Regions from separate parts of the Homo sapiens genome. Here region 1 is linked to region 2. The links come from fine-mapping of genetic effects on gene expression. A gene starts in region 2. The other region holds a variant in brackets. All regions are shown on one strand. Distances are from middle to middle.

Region 1 (15,934 bases), 41 kb before region 2:
CTAAATAAGATTTGATGACATGATTTGTTAAATCTGTAAGTAGGTAGGTTTTATTTTAAATTATAAGCATTTTTAAAATCATGGACTTTGTTGTGGTTTTTAAGGAGCTGTTGAATTGGATTTATAGAAAATGTCCAAATTGCTTACTTCGTCTTACCAATTAGATATTTTTAGGTTCAACATTTCAGCTTAGAGCTGTTGAACTTGTTTGTATCTTATTTAGCCTATAAAATATTTAAGAAATGTGCACTTCTTAGATACAACCAAAGAGAATGCCCCAAATTCTTTAGGTTAGACTTCTACTTAGTGGAAACTGTATGCTTCTGTGTTTTATATATTTGCATTTAATGGTTTTATATACTACTTATTTAAATATTTTTATTTCTTAAGTATTCAAAAGTACTTGTTTTATATTTAAGTGCTTTTATTGTGTTATAGGTCACCCATTTTTAAAATATGAATTAATTTGCATAAAACATAGTAGTAAATAAAAATTAAGTTTACATAGCTGTCCCATACGTAGTGGCTATAGTTTTGTGAGCCTTCTCCATTTATTCAGAATCATAATGCAGAAAGAGCACCAAAAGGTTAATTCAAGCCTGATTTTGTTAAATCATAGCATTATTTGTTAAGGTTATACTGGATTATTTTCATGAGCTCTGCCTCTTTTTAAAGCAGAAATTAAGAAGAAATGTGAACTTGTTAGAGAAGCTTGTTATGCAAGAGACTTTGTCATGTTTAGTGGTCAATCTATACCCAGGAAATGAGGGATATTCTCTGATGCTCAGGGGAAAAAACGGATCAGGTAAGACCCTCTAGAGCACAGCTGCCACAAAATACTTTTGCTAGGCAGGATGTGCGGTTTTTTTAAAGTAGTTTTTTAACCTGCTAAAGCATTTGTCCTTCAGATAGTGATGACCTAGTGATAAAAACAGATTTTGATCCCAGTTTTCTTCCTTATGATATGTTTTGGTAGAATATTAGAAATTATCTCTCTTACAATTATCTTTCCTGAATGTGCATTTTAGAAGTATTCTAATTGATATGTCTTTCAAGTCCAATTATAAAAGCATCTCAGAACCAAAGGAAAGGTTAAAAAAAAAAGGAAAATTATAGAGGCATAACTTACAGATGATTAAAATAGAATTTCCTTTCATTCTATTGCTATTTATATTTTAAGATAGCATACCGTGTTTAAAGGTAGGTAGTCCTGCAGTTTGAACATGAGTCTGAAATCTTCAAAATTAAGCAGACTCACTGCCTTTTGAGTAATTTTCACATATTAAAATATTTCTATTAATACTGAATATGAACATTTCTGTTAATGGTGAATATGAAAATAATTTAAAAATAGAAACACTTCAGTTTCATTAAAGAGGTGTAAAAATTTAATATGATGATAATGTGAATTCTACAAGGAACTCACATAGCTGGAATTTTGTGTGTGTGTTGGTAATTAATTGTAAAGTGTAACACCAAGAGAATTTTGTTCTAAAAGTGACCACTTTTCAGATAAGGCACCAAATTGTCCCTCTGATTTCCAGATTAGATTAATTGGTCTTCAGTGAACTTTCAGTTACTTTGACATTGGAATTTTATCATATTCTGATTATTTTGCTTTGGGCTGTGGTTCAGATTGTGACGTTATGCCAGATGTTTTTTCATAATGTGTTAGGTTTTTTTTTTCCCCCTTAAGAAGGACATTAGGAGGGCCTTTTGGTTTTGTTTTTTATTTTTATTTTTTTTGATCCTTGCTTGGTTGAAATGCCTTTTGGTTTTATTATATATAGTTCTTTGAAAAGCCATTTGAATTATACAGCTAAGCTTTCAGTGAGCATGATCATTTTCAAACTTCATGTTTTAAATTAAGATTCCGAGACCATTCGACTGCCCTATGAAGAAGGAGAGTTGCTTGAATATTTGGATGCAGAAGAATTACCTCCTATTTTGGTTGATCTCCTAGAAAAATCTCAGGTACAAAATTTTTGTCTTTAAAATGTCTTTATATTTGTTATATGTATATGATATATATATGTCACATTTTTATGTATGTATACATATATGTATATAAACGACTACATGATGTTTCATGACAGATGATATTTAATTTCTATCACTGTTCCCAACAGCCTTTAGAACATGAAATCAGGCTGGGCTTTGGTGGCTCATGATGCCTGTAATCCCAGCACTTTGGGAGGCTAAGGCAGGAGGATCACTTGAGCCCAGGAGTTTGAGCTCACTACAGTCTCAAACCCCTGGGCTCAAGTGATCCTCCTGTACCACTGCAGGATTAGAGAAGGAAGGATTAGAGAAGGAAGAGGAAAACCAGAATTGCAGTGATTGCACCACTGCACTCCAGCGTGGGTGATAGAGCAAGACCCTGTCTCTAAAACTAATAATAATAGAAGATGAAATGAGACATATATAGCTATCTGGAAATGGGCTTATTGTCGGATATTTAACCTTTAGGGTATACTGAAACGTAGAGACGTAGTTCTTCTAAAATAGTTAGAACAATTAGCTCATCAATTGGAAATCTCCCTATAGTTACAATCAAGAAATTATGAAAGAAACTACTTTGAATATTTATGAAGTTTTTCACTTGGGGGCCAGAAACTGGCCTTTACATCTGTACTTCTGTTCATAGCTTGCCTAGGTAAGCACTCCCTTGCCCTGTTCTACTTTCTTCTTACTGCCTTAACTTAACCCCAGCCATACTGTGTACTCTACTGAGGAAAAAGAAGACATCACATGAGAACTCTCGTTTCCTCCTAGCACCAGTCGACTAGCATCCCTACCTCTCTCTTCATATCTGCCTGCCTTCCCGTTAAAATAGTTGATGTATACTGTTTATAGACATCCATCCCCTCCACTTGTTTTCTGGATCCTCCCCTTCCTTCTCAAGGACTTAAAATTATAACCTCTCTTTTTTTCTATTTCTCTTTCTCTATTAAATGCAGAATGCAAGCATACTGTGTTACAGGTTGAGCATCTCAAATCTGAAAATTTGAAATCCACAGTGTTCCAAAATCTGAGCACTGACTGACACTTAAAAGAAATGCTAATTGGAACATTTCCGATTTCAGGTTTTTTGATTAGGGCTGCTTAACCTAAGTATAATGCAAATATTTCCAACTCTGAAATGCTTCTGGTCTGAAGCACTTCAGATAAAGGATTCTTAACCTGTATGTCTCAAATTTTAAAAAAATCCTCCCTTGACCTCATATCCTTCTCCAACTACTGCTCTTGTTACTCTTGACAGCCACGCTACTCAAAGAATTTATAGTCATTTCCTCTTTTGCAGATCCCATTCTTTCCACCACCTATCTCATTTGGCATCATGACATCGTTCTGCAGAGGCTGCATTTGTCAGAGTTACCAGTGATCTTCATATACTGAATAATTGGTCACTTTTCTGTTCTCTTCTTAATTGGCCTCTTAGCAAAGATCAGTGGATATAACTGCGTCCTGCTTGAAATGCCTTTCTGTTGACTTCTGAGACATCATTTTCCTGGTTTTCCTCTGCTTTCTCTAATCCTTCGGTCTTTTTTACTATAATCCCTGTTCCATCCATAAACATGTGTGTTTTCAGGTTCAGTCCTTGGCTCTCTGTTTTTCTTTAGTAATATTCTCCCTGAATGATTTCAGCCAGTTTCATGGGTTTTTAAAATGTTACTTAGTCTATTGCTTATATGCCTCACCATGGCCATTCCACCAAGCTCCTAACTTACATATTTTCTTGGATATATAATAGGTTCCTCAAATTTAACATGACAAAAACAGAGCTTTATTTTACCTCCCAAACCAGTTTTATCACCAGTCTCTTCAGTCTAACAGATGACTCTGTCCTTACCTTCCACATTCAGTCCATCAGCAAATGCCAGTCTCTCTTTAAGATACATGATCGTGCCCAGTGCTCTGAACAAAACCTTTGCTTTCCTGTTTGTCTTCATCTTCTAGATCTCATCCTCACTCGCTGCATTCCATCCATCCTTGTCTCATTTCCACAATAAAACACTCCAAGCTTGTTCCTACAGTAAGAACTTCTCATATGTTATTCCCTCTGTCTGGAATGATCTGTCCCTGAAGTGTCTGGCCGTTTCTTGTGATTCAGATCTTAGGTAAAACCTAAGGTTTCTATCTGCACATACAATCCAGATTAGCCCTTCCCTATTTGATTTCCTTTATAGAATTCATCACTATCTAAAATTACTTTGTTCTGTTTACATGTTTATTGCCTGTCTTCCCACAACTGAGAGCAAATGTTGTCTGACTACTGTATCTGTGAAGCTGTACCTGGATAGTGCCTAGCACATAGTAGGCATTGTAGTTGCTCAGTAAATATTTATTTAAAAGAATGACAATAAGAATGACAAAACATGGAGACCACAGTACCCACTAAAAGTTCTGAATGGGTGAAAAACATACTATGAGTGACCATGGCAAGTCATAACTAGCAAGACTTCGATGATAATAGTTCTTACATTTGAGCATAGAAAGGACTGAAAAACTATTTTTCTTTTTTTTTTTTTTTGAGGTGGAGTCTCGTTCTGTCACCCAGGCTGGAATGCAGTGGCCCAATCTCGGCTCACTGCAAGCCCCACCGCCTGGGTTCATGCCATTCTCCTGCCTCAGCCTCCTGAGTAGCTGGGACTACAGGCGCTCGCCACCACACCCAGCTAATTTTTTTGTATTTTTAGTAGAGACGCAGTTTCACCATGTTAGCCAGGATGGTCTCGATCTCCTGACCTTGTGATCCACCCGCCTCGGCCTCCCAAAGCTGGGATTACAGGCATGAGCTACTGCACCCAGCCTGAAAAACTATTTTTCATTTGAATTTTATATTTAGCTTCCCTCTTATTAATAAAGGCTAAGGGCAAAATTATATTTCTGAAAATTTTAGCAGAGCAAATATAGAAGTTATATCTAGAAGCTAAAACACTGGCAAGGTTGGTTGGCAATTTATAACAATGATAAACTTTATAGTAATGACAAAGTTAGTGAAATGTAACAGTAAGCCTGTGAGCTGCAGAAGAACAGCAGTTCCAAGGATCTGTAACATAATAGTATGTAAATGCCAAAAGTCAAACTGTTGACTTGGTAGATGCCAAAGTCAATCTATAATTAGAAACTATTAAATAGTTTTAAATTGCTTCTTGTGTCATAGTGATGAACATGAAATACTTCCTCTGAAAAGGTTTACATAGTGTTAAATCTACCAAGGAAATCTACTGAAGAGTACATACATGAGTGGCCAGAAATGTTGCATGAATGTAAAGAATGCGAAATGTTTGATATAAACCCACTTATTTAGGCTTTTGGAAAAAAAAATGACGTTTACGTATTTTTGCCCAAACAGGTTAATATTTTTCATTGCGGATGTGTCATAGCAGAAATACGTGACTACAGGCAGTCCAGTAACATGAAATCTCCTGGTTACCAAAGTCGGCACATTCTCTTACGTCCAACAATGCAGGTAAGGATGTTTAATTAAGAAATACTATTTTAGATTTTAGTTGGGAGTTTTATTTATCGAATTCTTCATATGTTTGTGCATAGATTAATAAGTTTTTTAAATTTTTATTTCTTCTAGACTTTAATTTGTGATGTACATTCAATAACAAGTGATAACCACAAATGGACCCAGGTTAGTTGTTTTGTTTTTTAATCTCAAACAGGCAAAATATAGGATGAAAAAAAATTATCATTAAGCAAAAGTGATTTTCTGCTTATTTTTATTCAATAATTAAGTTTGATGCTTTATGTGAAAAGCTGGTATTCCTTTATAAGATCTAGAAGTTAAGGGTCTCTTTATATGTGTAGTAATCCCTCAAGTTGCCTAAGATCATTTTAAGGTCAAGCTGGCCTAATATATTCAATGAGATAAAACTTAGTTCTTTATCTCCTCTCAAACAGAAGAAAAATGTTTTGTTTTTACCATGGTTACAAATAGATACTGGTTTTTTTTTTCAAATAATTCAAGTTTCTAAACCCTAGCCTAGCCTATCTTTCTTTGCCATTTATACTGGTTGCCTTGAAATGAGGGGAACTCTCTTACCCCTGAGAATAACCAGTTAACCCCTCCAGTTCTGGCTCAGTGTTATATGAGGGGACTTCAGAAAGTTTGTGGAAAACTGGAATTAAAAGATAATAATAAAAAATATAAACTTTTCTTCTCAATATAAGCTCCATCAAGTTCAAGATGCTTGTAAATGATATCAACCATTTATTTAGTCCACCCCTGAAGAACTGAGGGTCCTGGGAACTGAACCATATCAATGCAATCTTTTCTACATTATTAACTGAAGAAAAATGGGTACTTTTTAAACTTTTTTTTTTTAAGATTAGGAAACAAAAAGAAGTCAGAAGGAGCCAAATCTGGACTGTAAGGTGCATACCTAATGGTTTCCCATCAAAACTCTTACAAAATTTCTCTTTTTTGATGAGAGGAATGAGTAGAGGCATTGTGGTGCAGAAGTCTCTAGTGAAGCTTTCCCAGGCATTTTTCTGCCGAAGCTTTGGCTAACTTTCTCAAAACACTCATAATAAGCACGTTATCATTCTTTGTTCCTTCAGAAAGTCAACAAGCAAAATGTCTTGAGCATCCCAGAAAACTGTTTCCATGATCTTTGCTCTTCATCTGTCTGCTTTTGCTTTGACTGAATCACTTCTGCCTCTTGGTGGCCATTGCCTTAATTGTGCTTTACTATCTTCAGGATTATACTGGAAAGAATGCTTTAGTATCTTGGTCCTACTTGTTGAAAATTTCTATTGAAAGCTCTGCTTTTGCAGCTGATCGGGATGCAGTGGTTTTGGTACCCATCGAGTGGAAAGTTTACTCAACTTTAATTTTTCAGTCAAAATTATTCAGGCTGAACCAGTTGAGAGGCCTATAGTGTTGGCAATTGTTTCTGCTGTTAATCATTGGTCCTCTTCAGTTAGGTTACAAACAAAATGAATTTTTTTCCTCGTAAATTGATGTGGAAGATCTGCTGCTGCAGGCTTCGTCTTCAACATAGTCTTGTCCCTTCTTAAAACAAGTTACCCATTTGTAAACTGCTGCTTTCTTTGAGGCATTCTTCTCATAAACTTTTCAAAAAGCATCAGTGATTTCACAATTCTTCCACTCAAGCTTCACCATCAATTTGATGTTTGTTCTTGCTTCAGTTTTAGCAGAATTCCTGTTGCTCTGGTAAAGGCTGTTTTCAAACTGATGTCTTATCCTTCTTAGTGTTTCAAACTAGGTTCTGTTCAGACATGTTATAACAGCTTAGTACATGTTTATTTTGGTGCAAAAAGTTTTGAAACCTATGTATAGTTTTTTCTTAATACTCATTTTTCATAAACTTTTTAAAGACCCCTTGTATATGAGATGTCCACTCACAAAAGTGTTCAGTTGCCTGACTATAGTGAGGAATAATTACTAAGTCAAAAGAAAATATCAGTAATGGTAGTTATCCTTTCTGTGACATGTGATTATAAACTAAGCTTCAGTTCATCAGTAACTACCAAGTATTGTGTTTTGGTTTGGGCTATAATGTTGTCATCTACAAAAAGATTAAAAGCTATTAAAAGAATATTAGAAAACAGAAAAACTCATTGGTTACCATCAGAGTTTGCTAGGGCATCAGATTCTTACTCTGAAGATTGATAAAGGAGAGAATATAATATTTATCCTGCCCTTCTTGTTATGAACTGTATTTTAGGCAGCCAAGTAACTGAGGGAAAATTCTTAGGAAAATTTCCAGCTAATAGGTGCAAAAGAAATGATAGACTTTTAAAAAATAAAAGTTTGAAAGTCTTAATGAAGTAGTGAATCTAGACAGCAGTATTTCTTGGATGTGAAAACCATTAGATGATAGGTTAATGGGAAATTTTATAATGTAGAAATCTGATCAAACCCACTGATTGAAGATGAGACAGTCAATTATTGTGTACCTCCTGGTTTGATGCAAGAGACAGTACACAACAGTAGTAATAGTACCAATAAAGAACTCTTGTCCAAAAAAAAAAAAAAGAGCCCATATTAAATCAAGCCACTAGTTGTAACTAGCAGTTTATAGGAATTCAGTGAATAAAATAAACTCTTAAGTGACACAATGAGGAAGAAACCAGCCAGATCTAGTTAATGGACATGAGAAAGCAACTGGTTAATTCTAACAAATTCTTATTTAGCAATATTATTAATTGATTCACTTTTTTAAAAAAAATAGCCTTAGTTATCAAGATATTTCAGAGGTTAAGCAAAATAATAGGATTCAGTAAAATATGTTATGTGATAATAGTAAAGAGCCTGTATGTTTGGAATTGGGTATATAGAGTTCACACAATATTAGCAGAGTCATTTTTATTCTTGTAATGTAGTTGAGTTGAGTATAGGATAGGACTGTTACTTCACAGTTACTGAAAAATGCCATAACCCTTTATGACCCTATAGGTTTTGTGAGAGCAGAGGGTTTTGTTTTGCTCACTACCTTATCCCCAGTTCCTGGAAAGGTGCCTAACACATCATAGGTGCTCAGATAGTTTCTTGAATTAATGAGTAGCCACTCTTACAACCTGACCATTCCGTGCTCTACAAATTATAGTCATACCTCGGAGTTACTGTGGGTTTGATTCCAGAGCACTGCCGTAAAGCAAATACTGCAATAAAGCAAGTCACATGAACTTTTTGGTTTCCTAGTCTATAAAAAGGTTACATTTACACTATATAGTTGACCTTGAACAACACAGAGGTTAGGGGCAGTGGCCCTTGTGCAGTCAAAAACCCATGTATAACTTCTGACTCCTCTAATACTTAACTACTAATACCTACTGTTGGCTGGGAAGCCTTACTGGATTTTTTTTTTTTTTTTTT[G/TG]AGGCAGAGTCAGGTTGCAACTCAGGTTGCAGTGCATTGGCACAATCTCAGCTCACTGCAATCTCTGCCTCCTAGGCTCAAGTGATCCTCCCACCTCGGCCTCCTGAGTAGCTGGGACTATAGGTGCATGCCACCATGCCCAGCTAATTTTTTTTTATTTTTGGTAGAGACAGGATTTCACTGTGTTGCCCAGGCTGATCTCGAACTCCTGAGCTCAAGCGTTCTGCCCGCCTCGGACTCCCAAAGTACTGGGATTACAGATGTGAGCCACCATGCCTGGCGATTAACATGTATTTTGTATGTTATGTGTATTGTGCTCTGTATTCTTAGAATTAACTGTTAGAAAGAAAAGAAAACATTATTAAGAAAATCCTAAGAGAAAATATGTTTACTATTCAGTAAGTATATCATATTAAAGGTCTTCATCCTCATCATCTTCACATTGAGTAGGCCAAGGAGGAGGAAGAGGAAAAGTTCATCTTGCTGTCTCAGGGGTGCAAAGAGATAAAGAAGATGGAAGGGGAGGCAGAAGAGGCATGCACACTCAGTGTAACTTGTATTGAAAAAAATCTCCTAGCTGGTCGCAGTGGCTCACACCTGTAATTCCAGCACTTTGGGAGGCTGAGGCGGGTGGATCATGAGGGCAGGAGATCGAGACCATCCCGGCCAACATGGTGAAACCCCGTCTCTAAAAATACAGAAATTAGCTGGACATGGTGGCGTGCGCTTGTAGTCCCAGCTACTCAGGAAGCTGAGGCAGGAGAACTGTTTGAACCTAGGAGGTGGAGGTTGCGGTGAGCTGAGATCGCACCACTGCACTCCAACCTGGCGACAGAGCAAGACTCCGTCTCAAAGAAAAAAAAAAAACTCCAGTTTAAGTGGACCTGCATAGTTCAAATCCATGTTGTTCAGGAGTCAACTGTACTGTAGTCTATTAAGGGTGCCATAGCATTATGTTTAAAAAAAAATCTATATACATTAATTCAAAAATACTTTATTGCTAAAAAATGCTAATGATCATCTGAACCTTTAGGGAGTCATAATCTTTTTGCTTCTGGAAGGTATTGCCTGGATATTAATGACTGCTGACAGATCAGGATCTGACAGATTGAGATGGCAGTGGCAGTTTTTTGAAAGACAACAGTGAAGTTTGCCCCATTGATTGTTTCTTTCATGAAAGAGTTCTCTATAGCATGTGATACAGTTTTACCCTACAGTAGAACTTCTTTCAGAATTGGAGTTAGTCCTCTAAAACCCTGTTGCTGCTGCATTATCAACTAAGTTTATGTAGTAGTATAAATATTACGTTGTCATTTCAACAATGTTCACAGCCAAGAATAGAGTCTATCTCAAGAAACCACTTTTGCCAGGTGCCATGGCTTGTGCCTGTAATCCCAGCACTTTTGGGAGGCCGAAGCAGGCGGATCACAAGGTCAGCAGTTCGAGACCAGCCTGGCCAATACGGTGAAACCCTGTCTCTACTAAAAATACAAAAATTAGCTGGGCATGGTGGCAGTTGCCTGTAATCCCAGCTACTCGGGAGGCTTAGGCCGAGTAGCAATTCAAGAATTGCTTGAACCCAGGAGGTGAAGGTTGCAGTGAGCCTGGATCACGCCATTGCACTCTAGCCTGGGCGACAGAGGGAGACTCTGACTCAAAAAAAAAAAAAACACTGTATATGGTCATCCATAAGAAGCAACTCATCCATTCAAGTTTGATCATGAGATTATAGTGGTTCAGTCACATCTTCAGGCTCTCTACTTCTAATTGTAGTTCTCTTGCTATCACCACATCTGCAGTGATTTCTTGTCCTGAAGTCTTGAACCCCTTGGAGTCATCCATGAAGGTTGGAATCAACTTCTCCCAAACTCATATTAATGTTTCTATTTTGACCTCCTCCCATGAATCATGCATGTTCTTAGTGTCATCTACAATGGCACATCCTTTCCAGAAAGTTTTTAATTTACTTTGCCCAGATCCATCAGAGGAATCACTATCTATGGCAGCTAAAGCCTTACAAAATACATTTTTTAAATATTAAGACTTGAAAGTCAAAATTAGTCCTTGATCCATAGGCTGCAGAGTGGATATTGTGTTGGCAGCTATGAAAACATTAATCCCCTTGTACATCTCCATCAGAGCTCTTGGGTGACAAGGCCATTGTTAATGAGCAGTAATATTTTTGAAAGAATCTTTTTTTTCTGAGCAGTAGGTCTCTACAGTGGCCTTAAAATATTCAGTAAAACATGCAGTAAACAGATGTGCTGTCATCCAGGCTTTGTTGTTTCATTTATAGAGCACTGATAGAGTAGTAATTCTTAAGGATTGTAGGATTTTCAGAATGGTCAAATAAGCATTGGCTTCAGCATCAAGTCATCAGCTGCATTAACCCCCAACAAGAGAGTCAGCCTGTTCTTTGAAGCTTTGAAGCCAGACATTGACTTCTCTCTAGCTATGAAAGTTCTGGATGGCATATTCTTCTAATATAAGGCTGTCTTGTTTAATTTGAAAATCTGTTGTTTAAGGTAACCACCTTCATCAGTTATCTTAGATCTTCTGCATAACTTGTTGCAGTTTGTATATCAGTACTTGGCTGCCTCACCTTGCACTTTTGTGTTATGGAGACAGCTTCTACTCTTAACCCTCATGAACCAGTTTTCTGCTTCAAACTTTTCTTCTGCAGCTTCCTCACGTCTCTCACATCATAGAATTGAAAAGAGTTGGAATTTGCTCTGGATTAGGCTTTGGCTTAAGGAAATGTTGCAACTAGTTTGATCTTCTATCCAGACCATTAAAACTTCCTCTGTATCAGCAATAAGGCTGTTTTGCATTTTTATCTGTTATGGATATTCACTGGAGTAGCACTTTTAATTTCCTTTATGAACTTTTCCTTTACATTCACCACTTAGCTAACTGTCTGGTACCATAGGCCTAGCTTTTGGCCTGTTGTAGCTGTTTATAGGCCTTTCTCACTAAGCTTAATCATTTCTAGCTTTGGATTTAAAATGAGAGATGTGTGACTCTTCCTTTCAGTTGAACACTAAGAGGCCATTTTTTGCCTAATTTAAATATTATAATGTTTCTAGAAGTAAGAAGTCCTGAGAAGAAGGAGAAAGATAGGGGAGATCCCACACTGGGGAGTGGTGGATCGGTGAAGCTGTCAGAGAACATACATCATTTCTTGATTTAGTACACATTGAATATCACAGATCACCATAATAGATTTAATAATAATGAAAAAGTTTGAGATACAAAAAAAATTACCAAAATGTGACACAGACACAAAATAAGTGTGTGCTGTTGGGAAAATGATGCTGATAGCCTTGCTTAGTGCAAAATTGCCACAGATCTTCAATATGTAAAAAGTGCAATATTTGCGAACCACAATAAAATGAGGTATACCTGCATTGAATTTCCATTAGAAGTTTCTTTATGCTGTCTGGTTTCTAAAAGTTTACATGCACACTAACATTGGAACTTGAAATACCATATTTTACTGTAGTCCTTAGCAGAATTCCAGGGAATATTTCTAGATTAAGTGCAATATATGATTACATATTTGAAAATCTTAAATCTGGTATTGACATATGCTCTTACACATTTCAGGAAGACAAACTTTTGCTTGAGAGCCAGCTCATCCTAGCTACAGCTGAACCACTCTGTCTTGATCCTTCTATAGCAGTCACCTGCACTGCAAACAGACTGCTCTATAACAAGCAAAAGATGAACACTCGCCCAATGAAACGGTAATTGCCTTTGTGGAAGGGTGAACCAAAAGACACAAGTAGCTATAAATTTTGCTATTTATAGTATCTTTTCCCTCCAGGGTATGGTTGCTCCGATTTTGGTGGGGAAGGGTAGAGATGAGGTCTCTCTTTGTTGCCCAGGCTAGTCTCAAACTCTTGGCCTCAAGTGATCCTCCCACTTTGGCTTCCCAAACAGCTGGGAATATAAGCATGACCAACTGCACCAGCCTCTGATTTTTTTTTTTCTTTTTGAAAATAGGATTCTTAATGGTCTCATATTATATATTTTTATATAGTATTATTATTTTTTTAAATGCTCTATGCTTTAGATTGAACTGTTGCATTTTCTGCAGTCTTTTAAAGAATAAACTTTTTCTAAGTTTATAGTCTGTTTGCCAAAAAGGTAAAGAGGCTGAGATCAAATATGAACAGAAAGAATAATTTTTTCATTATTTTCCTACTAATGAATGACTGATTTAATTGTTGTTAATCCTACTTTAAGGAAAGAATTTGTAATTTTGAGATTTGAGAAAATATGATCATAGTTTTTAGAAGTCAGTTATAAACTGAATCCAGGCACACCTACCTTTTGTTTTTGAAACAAACCAAGCTTATTCCTCCCTCGGCATCTTTTAAAAATGTCCCTTCAAATAGTCATTCCCTGATCTTTCAGAATATTTTCTTTTCCCCACCCTCCATGGGAAACATGAGGGGATTTTTCCCCGGTAGTCACTGTGAGAACCTCTTTGAGCTCCTGGAGATAAAACCCCCAAAAGTCTGGGGGCTCCCAGTGACTAGGTCCCCTTGGAGTTTTGAATCTCTCAGACATGTCCACAGTAGGCCTCCAGCAATTCATCAGTTATACTTGAGGTTCCCTACCCTGGCACTGGTTCCTGAGGAGGTTTCTGCTAATGGGTTTCTGCTTCAGCAAGGCATGATGGTCTGCATTTGCCTATTGGTTTCTCCAAGTTTGGGGCAGTGGTTTGTCTTGTGACCACATCTCTTTGATGGATCTAAGAAGAATCGTTGATTTTTCTGTTTATTCAGCTTTTTACCTGTTAGGATGAGGTGGCAACTTCCGGAGTCTTACATGCCTGTACCCAAAACTGGAAGTTATCCCCTTCACTCCCATCTTTCCATAGCTAATTCCTTCTCATCATTCCTATCTCAGCTCACATGTCATTTTTTCAGACTCTTTTCCTCCCCTCCCTCTCCCCATTCCTTCCCTAATGTTGCCCTCCTTATCCCATACTCTCCACAGTACTCTTTTGCTTCTCTTACTGCTTCTTGGTGTCTGAAATCTGAAATTATTTTATCTGTTTACTTGTGAATGTCTCCTCCCCCTCTGGACTTGATAGCTCTGTGGTGATGGGAATTTTGTTTGTCCTATTCATTTTTATTTCACCTAGTCCTAGTTCCTAGGACTGTGCTTGGCATGTGGCAGTGTTCTATAAACACGATTTGTACATATTCAGCACTGACTAGTTTCAACTCACATATATTATGAGTTTCTTTTATTAGTGCCGTTTAGTTCAAATTTCTTAATATTTCAGGTGTTTCAAGAGGTATTCCAGATCCTCTCTGAATCGGCAGCAAGATCTATCTCATTGTCCACCTCCTCCTCAGCTGAGGTTACTTGATTTCTTACAAAAAAGAAAGGAAAGAAAAGCAGGTCAGCATTATGACCTCAAAATTTCTAAGGCAGGAAATGTAAGTATATATATTTTAAATGAAGCTTATTATGCCCAAAAGCCTGTCTTATTTAGCATTTTCAGTATATTTATATTGTTTTTAATTTTTCAGTATATTGTTTTTAATTTTTCAGTGTGTAGATATGTGGAAACGGAGTCCCTGTAATTTGGCCATACCTTCTGAAGTAGATGTAAGTCAGTTCATGAATTACTTTTTTTCATATAAAGTTTCTCAGTTTTACTATTCGGTTGCTTATACCTTGAGAAAACAAAAAAAAAACTTACTTTAAAAACAAAGTGATTTAGATCATACTCTAAACAAGTTTTTTAAAAACAATATGATTTATTTCAAAAAACATCGAAAAATGATTTTTAGAAGCTGTGTATTGTTCTTTTTTCACATTAAGTTGAAAGAACATAACCCCTTAATATAGTTTTTTGGAGCAGGAATAGTAAAACAATTTTAAAATTGGAAAAATACAGTGTATATTACATAATCACGTGAAATCTCTCTTTTTTTGATAATATTTCATCAAAATTTCCTAATAGTGCTTGTTTACTCAAACTGGTTAAATTTGAAGATTAATAATATTATTTGACATAAAATAAAATAAAGATTAATAATACTAGAGAAGTAACCAAGATTAGGAACATTGGGTTGTATTCTTTATTGATCCATAATATACATGAACTATAAATGGTTGAAGACAAAAAAGGGATATTTTGATGAGTGATCCTATGTTTTTCTTTCTCCTCTGTTGTTTTTTATATTCACTCAACTCTTTATTTTCAGATTTGTTCTTCTGTTGCACCCTTTCCATGCTAGCACATGCATTATTCTTACTATTTCTGATTTAAAAAAAAGAAATTACGCAAAGCACAAAGCCAGAAGCAGCAGTAGACTGTATATACAGCTCAAGGAAGTAAGCCATATTATCTTTTGGTAGCTTATGTGCAGTTCTTCAAGGAACATGGCCTGATAATAGAATTTCAGTGTAAATACTGAAGGGTGGAATTTAGCTTTGGAGGACAAGCTGGAGTACTTCCCAAACTTTAATGTCCTTACGAATCAGCTGGAGAGCTTGTTAAATTGTAGGTTGCTACTCAGCAAGTCTGAGGTGCTAAGATGCATTTCTCACAAGCTCCTAGGTTATGTGATGCTGGGGTCCATGGACCACACATTGAGTAGCAGTTGCCCTCAAAGCTTCTCAGTCTAGCTCAATCAGAAGAATCACCTAGGATATCAGTTAAACATAGAGATTTCAAGCCCTACTCAAAATCTACTTACTTAGGATTTCTAAGGGACAGACATGAAAATCTGTATTTTTAATAGGTGCTCCAGGTAAGTCTAAATTACTCTTAAGATCGTGGTTGCCTGTAAGATAATAACATTTGACTCACACAGATGCCTAGGACATGTACAGAATATATGGTCAAGTCTGACTAGAAAGTGGAAAACGTTCAAAAAATTTGATCAGCTTTAATATTTTACCTTCCCTAGTCTCCCTCAGTTTTGTCCCCACTGTTACATGACCGCTTTTATTTCAAGAAAAGCCTGCCAAAAGGAAAAGATCTTTATCCTTATCTCTCTGACATTCCAATTTTCCTGAAGGAAAAGCTCTAAAGGAAAAACATATCAG
Region 2 (15,934 bases):
CCAGCCATGAAATTTCTATTTTTCTGACATTTTTCCCCCATATGCCTTTTTAAAAAATCTATTTTAGACCTCAATTCTAAATCCTTTACGAGTTTTCCTGGTATCTTTCAAAATACCTCAATCTGTAACTGAAGTATATATAGCCCCTCTGCTAACATCCAACTGTTTTTCTCATTTAAAAAAAATGTTGGTTCCTACCATAAAGAACAGATGGTTCCAAGGCAAGAAAAAAATAGCAGTTGTATAAAGCAAAGAATCTTTATGGAAACAAAAGGTGTGCAATGACAGTTCTTTGACTTAAAAAAATTCCATTCTATTTTTTTTTTCTTTTGAAACAGGGTTTCACTCTGTCACTCAGGCTTGAATGCAGTGACACAATTATAGTTCATTGTAGCCTCAACCTCCCAGGCTCAAGCAATCCTCCTGCTTCAGCCTCCCAAGTAGCTGGGACACAGGTGTGCACTGGCACACCCAGCTAACTTGATTTTTTTTGTAGATACGGGGTCTCCTTTGTTTCCCAGGCTGGTCTTGAACTGCTGGGCTGAAGCGATCCTGCTGTCTTGGCCTCCCAAAATCCTGGTATTATAGGTGTGAGTCACCACACCCAGCCAAAATTCTATTTTCTTGGTTAGTAACTTATGAATGTATAAACAAAAATTGAGCAAACAAGTTTGATAAAGGTTAAATTTATGAAATTCTATATCCTGCTATTATGCTATCTTTTACTAACACACGGAAAACTTTTGAGGAATTTGTTTTATTCATAAATATTTCCGAATATTAGGAATAATTTTCTTTACATCAACTTAACTAGGACTTAACTAAAAATTATTAAATGTGTTAAAAGTATTTGTATTAAAATTACAAAACCATTTAACTTACCAACGTATCCTTTATCAGGGGCATCTGTTGATGGTGCTGCAAATTCCTATAGTAGCAAAGAAATGTTTCCTATTGAAAGAAGCTACTGAAAAATTATGAAGACAATTTAGCAATCAGTTATGGAAGGCTCTATCAAATATCAGCTTAGGGAATTGTGTCAGGGCCTCTACGGACATTGGTGCTGATCCTCACAATAGCTCTACAAGATAAGAAGGCACTACAGTACAGTGGACTACACTACAGTGCTGCTCGGCAAGATTACCTGGAGATCTTTTAAAAAATAGTAACTGGGTTTGTGCCCCCAACTACTAGCCAAGAATCTTAATTTGTTCTCCAGATGATAGAGCAAGATTTAGGAACTGCTGCTTTAGTGGTAAAGAGCAAAAGCTCAGCTGGGCGCGGTGGCTCACACCGGTAATCCCAGCACTTTGGGACACAGAGGCGGGCGGATCACCTGAGGTCAGGAGTTTGAGACCAGCCTGGCCAAGATGGCAAAACCCCGTCTCTACTAAAAATACAAAAATTAGCCAGGCATGGTGGCGGGCGCCTGTAATCCCAGCTACTTGGGAGGCTGAGGCAGGAGAATCACTTCAACCCAGGAGACGGAACTTGCAGTGAGCTGACATCGTGCCACTGCACTCCAGCCTGGGCGACAGAGCAAGACTCCGTCTCAAAAAAAAAAAAAAAAGCAAATGCTCTGCAATTACTAAGCCAGTTCAAATGTCAGAGCCATACTTACTGGCTGAGAGACTTCAGGCAAGTTATTTAACCTCTTACCTTAAACTCCTCATCTTGTCAAATGGGAAGAAAATAGTGTCTACTCCTAGGGACTGTTAATAAGGGCCAAATGAGATAGACCTGTTAAATCCCAGGCATAAAACCTGACAAGGAGCAAGTTCTCAAATCTTACTGTTATACATCACTCCAGGTTTACGAAAGAAGAATCTCAACTGAGGTTAAATAACACAGGGTATACTGTAGTCAAAGAAGCACAGGCTTTGGAGTCAGATTTATGTCTAAGTTTTACTTATGAGTCTTATGTACCTGGACAGGTTACTGAAAGTCATCTGTAAAACAGGAGGTGAAGACAAGTAACAAATGATTGTTATAGGCATTAAAGTGGATAATTCTGTAAAGCACCTAAAAAGGTGTCTGGAACATAGCAAGTACTCAGTAAATGGTAGCCAGTATTCCCTCAAATTTTTCTTTTCAACAATTTCAATTTTCTACACATTTACACAGATTACATGTCATCACTGGCTAAAAGGATGTCACCAAAAATCTGTTAATGTCTCAAATGATATAACAATTTTTTTAAAATGGTGACTCAGATTTTAAAAGTTGTTTCATTTTGCTACATTTGACAATTGTTCACTTAGTCATTAAACTTGGGTCATATTATCTAACACTCATAGTGAAAGCTCTTGGGAAATTAAACATTAAAAATTGACACCCAACTACCAAATCAAGAGTAGAATTACAGGTGTATATTACAATCTAATAAATAAAGCTAACTTTGTAACTCAAATCTCAATAGGACATATTTAGACTTACTGCTTTAACTCCACAGATTACTGTAGTATTTCCCAACTTCACTAAAGCAGAACCATCTGCGGTACTAATTGAACCTGAAAAGATAAGCAAAATGAAAGGTTCATAAAAGGAAAACAGCTACAAAATTATCCACATAATAATTAAAATTAAGTGTTTTAGTTTGCTGTGTACGATTATCTTGCTACCCCTCTCAGTTGCTTATGAATATTTCAAGTTAGAATAATTGATTTTTACATAACTATTTTAAATTAGTGTTTAAATAATTATTCACCTGTCCTTGAATTTGTGTTAATCATTTTTCATTTAGTTACAGGGCTTTTGTACGGATAAAAATCTCTTGACAAAAAAAATCATCAAATCCTTTAGACAAAGAATTTGGGTGAAAAACTGTTTGGCTGGTTCATAGACTAAAACTTGGGAATATCATACAGTTGAAAGTGGAAAATACATCCTTACCGATGTTGACAGTTGTGGTTCTGAATTCACCAAGTTCTCTTCCATCAGGACGGCAGTTCTCTTTCTAAATAAATATGTTTATATAAAAATAGATTATACCTATTACATATTTTACACATCTATCACAAGTTTTACACACACATTAAATGTTACTTCAAATGGATTAATTTAAATTACTTGAAATTCATCTTTAAAAGCAGCTCGTTATCAAAACGCATAACATGTACATAACCTTTACTCACCAGAAATCTCCTGTAATACTCCAGAGGTTCCACGGTTCTGAAACACGTGTTAAAAATATATCTGAGATAAACTGATGAATCTTAACATAAATCCAGAAATTGGCAAAGATCTTAAGTGTGGTGATGCAGCATAAATCTCCACAACTTTTTAACTAAAAGTAATTCTAGAAAGTAAAAATCCTTGTAGTAGCAATCACATTCAATTGCTGTCCTTAACTCTGCCATAAACGATTAGAAGATTGGCGTCTAAAAGCCCTTTGAGTGAGCTCTTTAAAAGCTCAATCTGTGTCAAAAGAATCATGTCGTTCTTGCTCTGAAACAAGGATTCAGAGTGATCTAGTGATCATGAAAAAAGATTATTTTAATAATCTAGTGATCATGAATAGTTAACCTCTTACTAGATAACTCAGGAAACAAAAAGGTACATCTTTATTTTCACTGTAAGTGAAATTTAGCATATTCTTCAATTATGACTGTAAGCAATAAGCCATAGTAACATTAGCAGTACCTGCAACTTTAACAACCACGGAGACCACAGATGTTTTCGTTTGCACCCTTTAGCTGTGTAAGGTATGTTCAGGCTCACCGTTACTTTGAAATCCCAGGAGTTACTACTAGTCTCGCCACTAGATCTTGTTTACGAAGGTTAATTTTAAACCAAGTATATATACTACTATATCGTGTCTTCGGAGTTTATACTCATAGATAACTATTTCAACATAATGGATTTCCTTTGGAATCCTATTTATTTTATCCATTTTTTAAAAACTTTAAGAAAGTCCACTGGCTTCACACACACAAAAACCTTCCAAACGAGGCATGATCCTTTTAGAAATAAATTACGGGAGAGGGAGAAGCAGGCGGTATGTGGTTCTGATGCAACAATCTTGATTGATTGATTCTGACAGAGTCTCACTCTGTCGCCCAGGCTGGAGTGCAGTGGCGCGATCTCGGCTCACTACAACCTCTGCCTCCCGGGTTCAAGCGATTCTCCTGCCTCAGCCTCCTGAGTAGCTGGGACTACAGGCGCCCGCCACCACGCCCGGCTAATTTTTATATTTTTATTAGAGACAGTGTTTCACCATGTACACCAGGCTGGTCTCGAACTCCTGACGTCAGGTGATCCGCCCGCCTCGTCCTCCAAAGTGCTGGGATTACAGGCGTGAACCGCCGCGCCCGGCCACAATCTTTAAAAGATTACAACTATGTCTCCTGGGACTGCACGTTCACTACACACCACGCTCACGAGCGCTCGCAGCGGGTATGGAACTCTACAGAGTCCTTTCATCTCCCGTCTCACTGAGGAAGAAGCCCTTTCTTTTCACTGTGACAACCTCCAGGTCCTCCCGCCCATCGTCTGCCTCGACGAGGAAGGAAATGGCACCCCAACGGGGTCGGCCTCCAGGTGAGAGAATCCCAGCTAAGAGTTAAAGGAAGCTGCCGTCCGCCAGGGTACAGAACTCTACCCGCCACCCGCCAACACTCACTTGAACCCAGCCGCCATCTTCCCGCCCGCGCGTCTGCGCCTGCGCCGCTCCTCTCCTGCGCGCCTGTTCCGCCGCCGCACTTTCGACACGGATGCCGGGGCCGCTCACGCCACGGGAAATGCCAAGGTGGGGACGCGACGAAAGGTCCCTGGCCCGCCCTCGCATCGACTTTCCCCTGCCCAGACGCCTTTCTAGGTTTCCTTGCCTTGGACGTATTTTGACGAATCTGCTGTTAAAGAAGGAGCGGGTCTCCCTCTTTATAAAAGAGCTGGTGCTGTGACTCAGAATAACACCAACAGTTCGGAGATAACAGGGTTTCTAGCGCAGAATCAAGCAGTGCGTGTGGAGCGTTATTCCAATGTTTCTGCGTCTTTTTTCTGCCTGTGACTTAGGCTCAGCCCTGGCCTTGCCTCTTCACTGGTCAAGGGCTCCGTGCTCCAACACATGAGAAACCTGAACTTTTTTTTTTTTTTTTTTTGAGACAGAGTCTCGCTCTGTCGTCCAGGCTGGAGTGCAGTGGCGCGATCTCGGCTCACTGCAAGCTCCGCCTCCCGGGTTCACGCCATTCTCCTGCCTCAGCCTCCCGAGTAGCTGGAACTACAGACGCCCGCCACCGCGCCCCGCTAATTTTTTGTATTTTTAGTACAGACGGGGTTTCACCGTGTTAGCCAGGATGGTCTCGATCTCCTGACCTTGTGATCCGCCCGCCTCGTCCTCCCAAAGTGCTGGGATTACAGGCGTGAGCCACGGCGCTCGGCCGAGAAACCTGAACTTTCTGTGCGCTCATTGTCCGCACCACGTTCTGCTCTGCAGGTCCCGGAGCTGAGGGCTCCTAAGCATCACCTTGTGTTGTAGACTGTGTCGTGCTCAAGGCTGCCATCTCCCTCCTAGGTGGGGTTACCAGATAAAATACAGGATACCACGTTAAATTTGAATGTCTGATAAACACAGCGTGGTTTTTTTGTTTTTTGTTTTTGTTTTTTTGTGGGTTTTTTTTTTTTTAAAGCATGAGTATGCCCCAAATAGAGCATGCAATTAGTTGTTGCCAGAACCTGGAGGGAGCTGGGAAGGCTTTACAGATAGATAGTGGTGATGGTTGCACAGTATGTATGTAATTAATGCCACTCACTATTGTAAACTTAAAATGATTAAAATGGCAACTTTTTATTTTACCACAGTTTATAAAAACTAATGTAATAAACCAGAAACCTGTAACTGGATGAGTCGTATGGTATGTGGCTATCTTAATAAGGCTGTTAAAAACATGATTAGTTTTTTAATCTGAAATTCAAATTAAGTAGACGTCTTGCATACTTGATAAACCTGGCGCCCCGCTGTGGAACCTAGCGCTCCTCTCCACCGACTGGGCGCCGAGGGCACGAGAGCGGCGTTTTCTCCGCCTCGCCACGCGGGGGCGCTGCGGCCAGCGGGCGCGACCTCTCTGGCGGCGGGGCCGGGTCGCGCGGGCGCGCTTCCGCCTGTGTGGAGGTGCGGGATTGGGCGGGCTGCCACGGCATGGAGAATGGCTCCGCTTCTGTTGCAGCTGGCGGTGCTCGGCGCGGCGCTGGCGGCCGCAGCCCTCGTACTGGTGAGAACAGGGATGGGAACCCGCGCAGGCCGGGGCTTACCGCTCTCCTGGAGACTGCGGCTCCTCAGGCGTCCCCTCCTCCGCGCTACCAGTTCTCGGAGAAGTCCCTTTTCCCCTAGATTCCCCCAAATTCCTGACCTCGGAGTTTCCTGGAGTTTCACTCTCCTTTTCTTCGGTTCTTTAATTTTCCCTTGGAATCTTATCTCTTTGTGTGCTCAGAGACTTGTAAGTTTTTTCACACTGGAGCGCACCCACCCGGCCTGGCATCATCGCCGCTTCCATCGCCCCTGGCGCCCGCGCCCCCTACCCACCTCCTCTGTCAACCTCGACCTCTCCCAGACTCTCCGGGACCTGCAGCCGCTGCAGTTCTGCTCCACCCAGGGAGGTCTCGAGCCCCCAGAAGGGGTGTGCTCCCTAGCCTGCTCCCTTGGCTGATGTGGTTAAGCAAATAGGGGTGACGGAGCCTTGACGGCAGCCATCTGTTACAAATGGGAATAAATGCGTGGATCGATGAGACCCACTAGGGACGCAGGGTGAGCGAGAGAGACAGGCCTCAGGCGCCTTGTCCGGGGTCGCATTGTGTCCCAGAATTAAGCACCCTAAATATACTGCCCCTAAACAAGGCAGGACGATAGAATGCAAACTCGATTGTCTTTGCCCTTGCTCTCGAAACACAAAAACATTGTAAACACTTGCTGATTGTTAAGTGGTAGAAAATTGGCGAACTCTCTCCCGCACACCTTGGAATGAGCCTGCCCTCTAGTTAGTAAGTGGAGAGGATTTCAGCTTCCTTGACATTCAGATTAGCCACCTAGACAGCACTGCCAGGAAGGCCACTCTGCCATCTTTCCAGAGGTTGTATAAATTTACAGTTTAGATAAAATGTAATGCATCCTTACTTCTTTGTTGATAGTATCTGGGTGAGAGAGGAGTCCTCTCTTGCCCTAACTAGTAGAGATTTCAGGGTTTAGGGCTTTTTTGTTTTTTCAAGTTTTTGAGCAAACCAGGATTGATTGATTGATTGATTGATTTTTGGCGGGGTGCGGGCGGGGAGTGGATTCACACATTCTTAGATTGAAGCTGCCTTACTTTGGGTCTTTTGCACAGATTTTATGGGATTGTACTGACGGTATTTGTTCCCACTAGCTTGAAGTGATAAGAGCTACCATTTATTGATTGTAGTACTTACTATATGTTGTGTTGCACTTGGTTTAATAGGAGTTATTAAATCTTTAACACTGTGACATATATGTTATCATTAGCATTATTTTACTGGTGAGGAAACATGTTGGAGAAATGAGCTCGTGTACTCAAATGTTGCACAACTAGTGAAACTTAGGTTTTTTAAATGCCAGAGCAAGAAATCATTAAAAAAATAATTTTTCAAAACCTCATCCTGTCTTCATATGTATCCACTCTCCATTACTCACAGTCTCACCTCCTTTCTGAATTATTTTAAAACAACTCGAAGACATTTTATCTTTAAATCCTCAGCATTTATTTCTAACAGATAAGGTCCTTCTTTTTAAAATACCACAATAAAGTGGTCACAGATTTAAATTTATTCTGTGATTTCAAATGCCCCCTCAGTTCACTTGCCCTCACTTGTCTCATATATGTCTCAGTATATATGTCTGTTTGTTCCAATCAGGATCCAAACAAGTGCCACACATTGTACTCTGTTGATGTCTTGAGTCTCTTAATCAGTTGACAGTTTCTCCTCCCCCTTTTTTTCTTTTCCTTGTCTTTTTTTTTTTTTTTTTTTTTTGAGACGGAGTCTGGCTCTTGTCACCCAGGCTGGAGTGCAGTGGTGTGATCTTGGCTCACTGCAACCTCTGCCCTCAAGCAATTCTCCTGCCTCAGCCTCCTGAGTAGCTGGGATTACAGGCGCCTACCACCACTCCCGGTTAATTTTTGTACTTTTAATAGAGATGGGGTTTCGCCATGTTGGCCAGGCTGGTCTCGAACTCCTGAACTCAGGTGATCCACCCTCCTCGGCCTCCCAAACTTCTGGGATTACAGACATGAGCCACCGCGCCCGGCCTTTTTCCTTGTCTTTAATATGATCATTTGTCCTGTAGAACTTCTCACAATTTGGATTTCTTTGATTGCATCCCCTTAATGCCTTTTAACATCTTCTATCTCAAATTTTCTATAAACTGGTAGTTAGGATGGAGAGACCTGATCACATACATACTCGATGTGTTTTTTAATCAAGAAAAAATTGTGAGTGATGCTTCTTCCTTTCTCTTGTGTCTCATCAGGAGTCATGTAATGGCCATTTGTCTCTGGTGTTAAGATGGATCTGTGGTTTCAAATGTTGCCAGCCAGACCCACCAGTTTATAAAGTTTGTCATCAGCCTAATGGTTTTAGTAGTCATTGAGGATCATTACCTAAATGCTTTATTTCATTGCGGGTTGCAAAGTGAAATATTCTCATTGTATCCTTCATTTATTACCTAGAGTTTTGTAATGAAAGAAATCTCATCCTCAGCTATTCATTTACCCTAAAATACCTTTCATACATATAAAACGCAAAAGGCAAATTTTTGAAATGAGATCCTTCCTGCATCTTACCCAGTTTTTGTCTTTAGTATCATTGCAAATTTATGATTTACAGTATTTTTCATGGTTTGATCCATTGCAGTAATTTTTTTTGGCAGGGGGGAAGTGGGAGGACGATCAGATTCTTGCATCATAGGCCACTGAGAGCCCATTCAGGTTGACTACTTTGTCCTTTCAGCACAGCCCTTATAATCTTTGATAATCTTTGATTATAATCTTATAATCTCTGAAGTGATAGTAGTTGATGATGGCAGTAAAGATCAGACCTCAAAGATCAAACCTCAGGAGCTGATGACAATGACAATTTGATAATGTCTTCAAATTGATCATTAAATTACAAATGAATAGCATTCCAAAAATTTAAAGACTGTTTTGAAAGCAGAAAGTGTACCAATAGAAACAATGTAAAAACAATGGTTATTTCCAAAGCTTAGCTCCCAAGTGCATATGGAAGGGAGCCTGTAAGTTAGATACTTCAGTAAATGCTGTATTCTGAATTCAAATTCGAGTTAAGTGTCAAAAACATATTCTTAAACATTGTTGGTCCCTACTTGGTAGTCTGGGGAATCTTCCTTTTATATCTTGGGTCTGTCTGGTCCTGGATGGAAAGTGTGCCCTCACCCCGCATGTTCCAACTGCAAAATGGACTTGTCCTGTCACATATAGATTCCAAGTAGCGATAGGACCTTACTATATGTGTGTGTGTCTCTATGCATGTAGACACGCTAAGGATCAGGGTTTTAGGGCACCTGAGAGTAGACTGGTCTTCCTGTAGTGACTGACCTTTATTGTAGCTGGGATGGTGGAGGCCTGGCGAATGATGACTGGGAAGAGACAGAGCCTCCTAAGGCATCAGCACCTTACTGATGGAAAAAAGGACAGTAATTCGTTCATAAGTAGGGGACTCACTATTGTCTAATTTTGGAGTCACCTCTAGACCATTGTTAATGAACTAAAACCTGAGAGTGAGTATTCAACTAAAAGAAAAGTAGATGATGTATTCTAACATAAATACAGAAAAGTCAGCAAAACATAATTTCTGTTTTGTAAAAGACATGTATGTCTGCTTTTAGATTTCCATCGTTGCATTTACAACTGCTACAAAAATGCCAGCACTCCATCGACATGAAGAAGAGAAATTCTTCTTAAATGCCAAAGGCCAGAAAGAAACTTTACCCAGCATATGGGACTCACCTACCAAACAACTTTCTGTCGTTGTGCCTTCATACAATGAAGAAAAACGGTGTAAGCCCTGTTTTGATTTTTTTGGTAAAGGGTAGTTTGGAAAAGAAAAGGAAATTTAAAGTATTTGACTTCACTGTCTTTGCCAAAACATTAATAGATGTGGGCTGTGTTGAGCACACAGTTGATAATTGTTGTAGTTCGGCAGAGAGGGAAGTGAATATTTGCTCTCATGAATAGGAGCAGCATCATGAGGCAGCGGGACTGGAATGTTCTAGAGAGGTAATAAGCACATTGTGGACAGAAGGCAGGATTTCAGATGGGAATGACCATTGGGAAAGTACCAGAGGGGCTTGTTAGATTATTGGGACTTTTTTCTGTATGTAAGCTGAATGTGCCGGGCTTGGAAAATCATTTTCAAAAGTGATTTTTAATATATTTTTTTCTTCAAGTGCCTGTGATGATGGATGAAGCTCTGAGCTATCTAGAGAAGAGACAGGTATCATGTTTTCTCTTTTAATATGATATCTCCAATTAAAACTAGACCAGGTCACCAATTGTGGACCCCAAGCCAGATGCACTGTGAGAGGCAGTCCTGGCAGCACCCCGATCGCTGGGCCACCTGCTGCTTGCTTGTTGCTATCCATAAGCCCGGCACGTAGCATGCTACCTCCAGAGGCAGGTCGTTGACCCAGGACAAACCAGGAAGCGAAAATTTCTGTTTCTGTACCCTCCTACCCATTTTAATCCTGTCTTGCTTGATGATATATTTAAAATTGAGTGACAGTGTATGTCTGCAGACTTTGTATGATGCCACAATGCTGTTTTTACTTTTGTGACTTGTAAGAAAAGGTGTATTGTTGCTGTTTTTGCTGTTAACTTTTATTCTCTTCTCTCTTTTTTTATTTTTTGGTTAACTGGGTTTGAATAAACAGAAAAACTAAGTCTGAATGAACAGAAAAAAGATATTTTTAAAAGACACACTTACATTGAAATTATTTTGTATTTCTTCAATATTCTCAAGAGTCTCCCCTCACATTTTCTTCCTGTTTTCCCTACATAAGGAGAAGAGAAGTAATACACAACCTTCTTTTGTAACATTAGCTGCCATTGGAATCCCCTTGGAGGGATTAAGAATTAAGTGAGTTCTTTTTAAAAAAAAATTGTTTTGATTTACTTTGCTTTTAGATTTTTTGTATAAAGGGGAAATAGAAGATTCACTGAAAGAGAAAGGGCTGTATTACCTTATTACCAACTTCAAACATTCAATTTAGAGAAAAGAAGAAAGGAATTGAGCCTTTAATATGTATGAGGCTTCTACCTCTTCAATTACGTGTAATCTTCACACCAGCCACATAGAGTAGGTTTTTCTGTTCTCTTTTTTTAATCAGAAAATAGGCCCAAAAAGTTAAGTTGCCCAAGGTCATTAGGCTAAGAAATGCTGCAGCCAAGCTGGAATCTGCCCTCTCTGACTTCAAACCTCAGGAGCTTTTTTCTTACACACCTGTACCCTCTCAAATGTGCTATAGCACCACAAGTACCTGGCTTCTTCCACCACCAAGGTACAGGGCAGACTGGGGAACAGCAAGGTGACATGGAGAGATTGAGTCAATATTCACTCTCCACCTCTACCCAGGATCTCTCTCTCTCTTTTTACTTAGCCTTTTTATTTTATGCGGTTTGTGCACTAATATTTATATTCAAATTTATATGTATCAACACTAAAGCAGTTGTTTTTTAAATTACTGGTGATTTGATTAGAATACTTTATGGCAGTTATGCCAAATTGTATTACTTTATTTTTGTTTCTTGCAGAAACGAGATCCTGCGTTCACTTATGAAGTGATAGTAGTTGATGATGGCAGTAAAGATCAGACCTCAAAGGTAAATACACTTGCTTTTAGAATTGACAATAGTTAGAAAATAGAGAATAATTTTGCACATGTGAAATCTCACTTTCATTCACCAGGGGACCCTAAAGCTGTGCCTAACACTCTCCATTGTTATAGTCTAGATAGCAGAAAAAACAGATTTCATTTATGGAACTTCTCCATAAGACCAGGGAAGCTTTGAAGATCGCCAGATAGGGAAGAAACATGCCCGCGCACAGTTCCTCCTGGCCTTTAGGGTAGGAACCTTCGTTGCCTACCAATTTGTGCTTCCTTTTTCCCTAAGCACAGTTTCTTTATGCTCCATCTTGCCTTATAATTTCTAAAGCAGTCACGCCAATAGAAAGCTGCTTTCGTACCAGCCCCTGGGAAGCAGGTGTGTCCTTTCACATGCACAGAGAGCATTGGCAGGATCTGGCTTAGGAAGGGTAAGTGCTGCACTTTGAATAGTATGATGTGAAAGTTATGAACACAAGCCATCTCAGCAGTTTAGTGATACATGAAGGGAATGGCATGGAAAGCCACATTGGACACTTGCTGTTGAGATTATAGAGGTAGCCTAGACCCAGCTGAGGCTGTGCATCTTCTCCTGAGGAGCACTTTTTTGGTGGCCCTTGACCTGTGAGTGGCCAGCTGCTCTGCTGGAAGGATCAGGGATGCCCTCCCAGGGAGGACAAGCAAGGGAGGGGTTAGCAATTGGCCCCACTGCTCCCAAGGTTGGGAGGAAGTAGAAAGTTGAAATTATATTTAGTAGAAGTTTTTATTTAAAACAAACCAGTTTTCGCTAAGTTAAGTATTTATAGATTCCCTGTTAATGTCTTACAGTCTGAGGGGTGTGAGGAAAATTTTAGATACGGCTCTTGTTCTTGAGGCGTTTCAGACCAAGGGGGCACAAGGTATAGTACAAGAGAATACTGCAGTTGTACAGTGATGTTTATTATATCCTCAAACAACATACCAAAAAGGCGAGTAGGCACTCAGTAGGAACTCAGTTCACAAATGGTGGCCGAGTGACAGCTGCTGCCCTGTATACTAAAGGCCATGCTGTAAAGCTTCATTGTGCATCCATTCCAAACAGTTGTGGCTTTAACAATGTTATATTCCTTGAAGCTAGATACCATACTCTAGAGGGAGCTTTTCATCCTAACATAGTAAAGTCTTATTAGTTCACTTAGCTACTTATATAATGACTTTATCTTCTTGGTTTTGCAGTCTCAAGTATTGTGCCATTCCAGAGTAAACATCTACAGCACAAATAACTGTTCTTTGAACACATTTCTTCAGCTGTTAAGCAGAAGTCGAGAGTTCTGACTGGCACTAAAATACAAAGATGTAAAGACCACTTTCTACCTTGAAGGAGTTCACATCTATTAATAATACTGGAAATATGCATCAAATAATTAGAGCACTATGTGTTAGACATTTTTATCAATTAGGAACTATATCATAGAGTGGCTTAGATAATAAAGACGTTTAATTATCTCATCTGCCAGGAAGTCTAGAAATAGTTGATTCCAGAGTTGGCTTAGCATTTAAACAGGATCAGGTTGCTAGATCCATATCATTTTCAGTCTCACGCATTCCTTCATCACAAAATGGCCACAGCTGCAAATATTACATGTCCTGGAGTAGTAAGGGACAGCCAGGACTTTAAGAATCATCTCTGGGCTGGGCATGGTGGTTCATGCCCGTAATCCCAACACTTTGGGAGGCCAAGGTGGGAGGGTGGGAGGACTGCTTGAGCGCAAGAGTTCAAGGTTACAGTGAGCTGTGATCGCACGACTGAACTCCAGCCTGGGTAGCAGAGCAAGACCCTGTGTCAAAAAAAAAGAATCATCTCTGCGTGCATCTCTCCTTTTTAACTAGGAACGAAAATCTTTATCAGAAGTCCTCACCCCTCCCTCTACTAAAGCCCACACCCAAAGTTCACAAGCTAGAACTTAGTGACATGACCACCAAAGCCTGCAGGGAGGCTGCAAAAGTACTCAGCAAAGAGGAGTTAGACCAATCATGGTTCATCCCCTAGGGCTTCACAGTTGTCACTGCATTATTGGGGCCATAACAGCAAAGAAGGAGGCACTGTTTGCTGGTTTGGCAGCTAGTTAACAGTGCTACAACAGGACCATGGCTGCATTTGCTGGTTGAAACTGATAGATTTCAGCTATGTGCCAGATACCAGAAATAAAAATCTTTGCCTTTAAGTAGCTGACATTTACAGTTGCATTGTGATGAGTAAAGTAATAGTTGAATGAGAAAATGCTTCAGTAGTACACATTGCTATTAGAATTATACTTTTCTTTTTCCCGGGGGAAGGTGGGGATGGGCATGGAGGCTAGAAAAGAGAAATGGTGTTTGGCTGAGTCTTAAGCTGGCCTGACAGGTGAGGAAGCTGGAAGACAGTGTTCTGAGAAAAGGCATACAAGTGTAAGACCGTGGTATGGTCTGGAAATCTCAAATACTGCTAATGTTCACGGTACTAATGGGGCAGCCTCAGAAGCTGGCTAAAAAGGTGAAGGCTGAATCACAAAGGATCTCCTATGCTATGATAAGGAACTCATATGTGATGCTTAGAAGCCATAAGTCATCACTGAGGGTGTTTGAACAGGGCTTATGTGAACTGATTTCCATATTAGAAAGGCTACTCGTATAACTTTAGGAATGAATTAGGGAGTCAGGGTAGAGATGTGGGGACTTTAGGGGATAAGGCCCTGAACTAGGTCAGGAAGGTGTGAGGATAGCATGGATTTGAGAGGGATTTTACAAATCAGTCAGTGAGTTATAGTAGCCAGTGAATTGTAATGGGTGATAGAAATGGAAGATGATTCTCAGGTTTTCAATTTGAGCAACTTAGTAGATGATGATGCCATTTGCTGCAGCAAGGAATGTAGACTGAGCAGAAGTTGGGAGGAGGAGATGAATGAAATTCTGGAGTTTTTATTTATCCAATATATAACTAGGTGACACAGGAGAGAAGAGTCTGGGCTCTAAACAGACGTGAGATTCATAAATATAAGCTATAATTAAGCCCATGCAGTGACTCCCAGTGAGCTTTTATGTTGAGAAGAGAAGATGGCCAGGGGTTTCCCATTAGCTGTATGTACAGTGTAGAGTCAGTCCTTGTGTGGATTATCAGCATTTAAGGAGCAAGCCAAGCAAAAGGAGTTATTGGTGAAAACTTGGGAACAGTAGAGGAGGGCAAAGGCCAGATGAGAGCAACTTTACAGCTGCCTGTAGAGATGGTTGTCAAAGGAGAGGGTACCTGATGGGCTAAGGTTACAAGGAAACGGGATGTGGAAGAGCAAAGGGCATGAGCCCTACTACAGTGGACCGAAAAATAAATGGGTGATGAAATGCAGGTGGCAAATATAGATCACTATCTCACGACTTTGATTATAAAGCAGAGTAATGGCCGTAGCTTGAGAAAATAGTGAAGTCAAAGGAAAGTTTTTAGGATGCTGGCAGCTTGAGCAAGTCTGAGGCTGTGGAGCCAGCAGAGAGGAAGAGATTGAAGATTTAGAAGAGAATTTACTGCTGAGAGAGAGGAATTTGAGTGAAAAGATTCGGGAGAAATGGTCAGGATACAAACAGCCTCTCTGGGGAATAAGAGCGATTGCAGACCAGAACAAATACAAAAGTCATTAACCAGTGTTAAGGGCCCAATCATAAGTTTGTACCAGTCAGATAGCACATGGCTTTTGTGGGGTTTTTTTGTTGTTTTTTGTTGTTGTTGTTGTTTGTTTTTTAGCAGCTCAGTAGCTTAGGTAGAGGAGTCAAGAAAAGAAGGTCATTGCCCACTGTGGTGGTTCCTCTGCAGGAAACTGAACTATGATTTCAACCTAGTAGGTCAATGGCACCAAGATTTCTACAGCTCCTCCAGGTCATCAGAATGTACAGTGGGTGTAACCTAGTCACAAGAAGGGATAAACTGCAATAGCAGTGTTTGAGCCAAAGCAAGAAACACAGCTTATATAATTCTCTTTAATCCAAATTAATTTTATTCTGATTTTTATATAATTTCATAGGTAGCTTTTAAATATTGCCAGAAATATGGAAGTGACAAAGTACGTGTGATAACCCTGGTGAAGAATC

Alleles and levels. Positions count from the first base shown, and alleles are read on the strand shown. Sizes are in standard deviations (SD) of each study's normalised expression.
For the expression in neutrophils of the gene that starts at base 4,658 in region 2, allele G in region 1 goes with a higher level than allele TG (large effect, 1.0 SD a copy in BLUEPRINT).

Evidence for each region. PIP is the estimated chance that this variant, and not a neighbour inherited with it, causes the effect.
Region 1: its variant is fine-mapped to the expression of EXOSC8 in neutrophils (BLUEPRINT, PIP 0.95).

The regions. Positions count from the first base shown.
Region 1 is chr13:37,030,118-37,046,051 of GRCh38, reverse strand. It overlaps SUPT20H (SPT20 homolog, SAGA complex component), which reads left to right. Exons shown (of 26, transcript NM_001014286.3): 6 at 679-805; 7 at 1,871-1,974; 8 at 5,360-5,476; 9 at 5,594-5,647; 10 at 12,464-12,603; 11 at 14,157-14,313; 12 at 14,429-14,485. Among named protein-coding and RNA genes, the nearest start is that of SUPT20H, 22 kb to the left of the region's middle. The variant G/TG (reference allele first, on the strand shown) is at 8,858.
Region 2 is chr13:36,989,510-37,005,443 of GRCh38, reverse strand. It overlaps EXOSC8 (exosome component 8), which reads right to left and starts at 4,658. Exons shown (of 11, transcript NM_181503.3): 1 at 4,622-4,658; 2 at 3,135-3,171; 3 at 2,893-2,956; 4 at 2,437-2,510; 5 at 883-928. The coding sequence starts at 4,638. ALG5 (ALG5 dolichyl-phosphate beta-glucosyltransferase) reads left to right here and starts at 6,104. Exons shown (of 10, transcript NM_013338.5): 1 at 6,104-6,209; 2 at 9,848-10,019; 3 at 10,409-10,455; 4 at 11,772-11,840; 5 at 15,868-15,934. The coding sequence starts at 6,144. RefSeq lists enhancers at 4,089-4,148, 4,369-4,628, 4,829-4,918, 5,379-5,428 and a silencer at 5,889-6,188.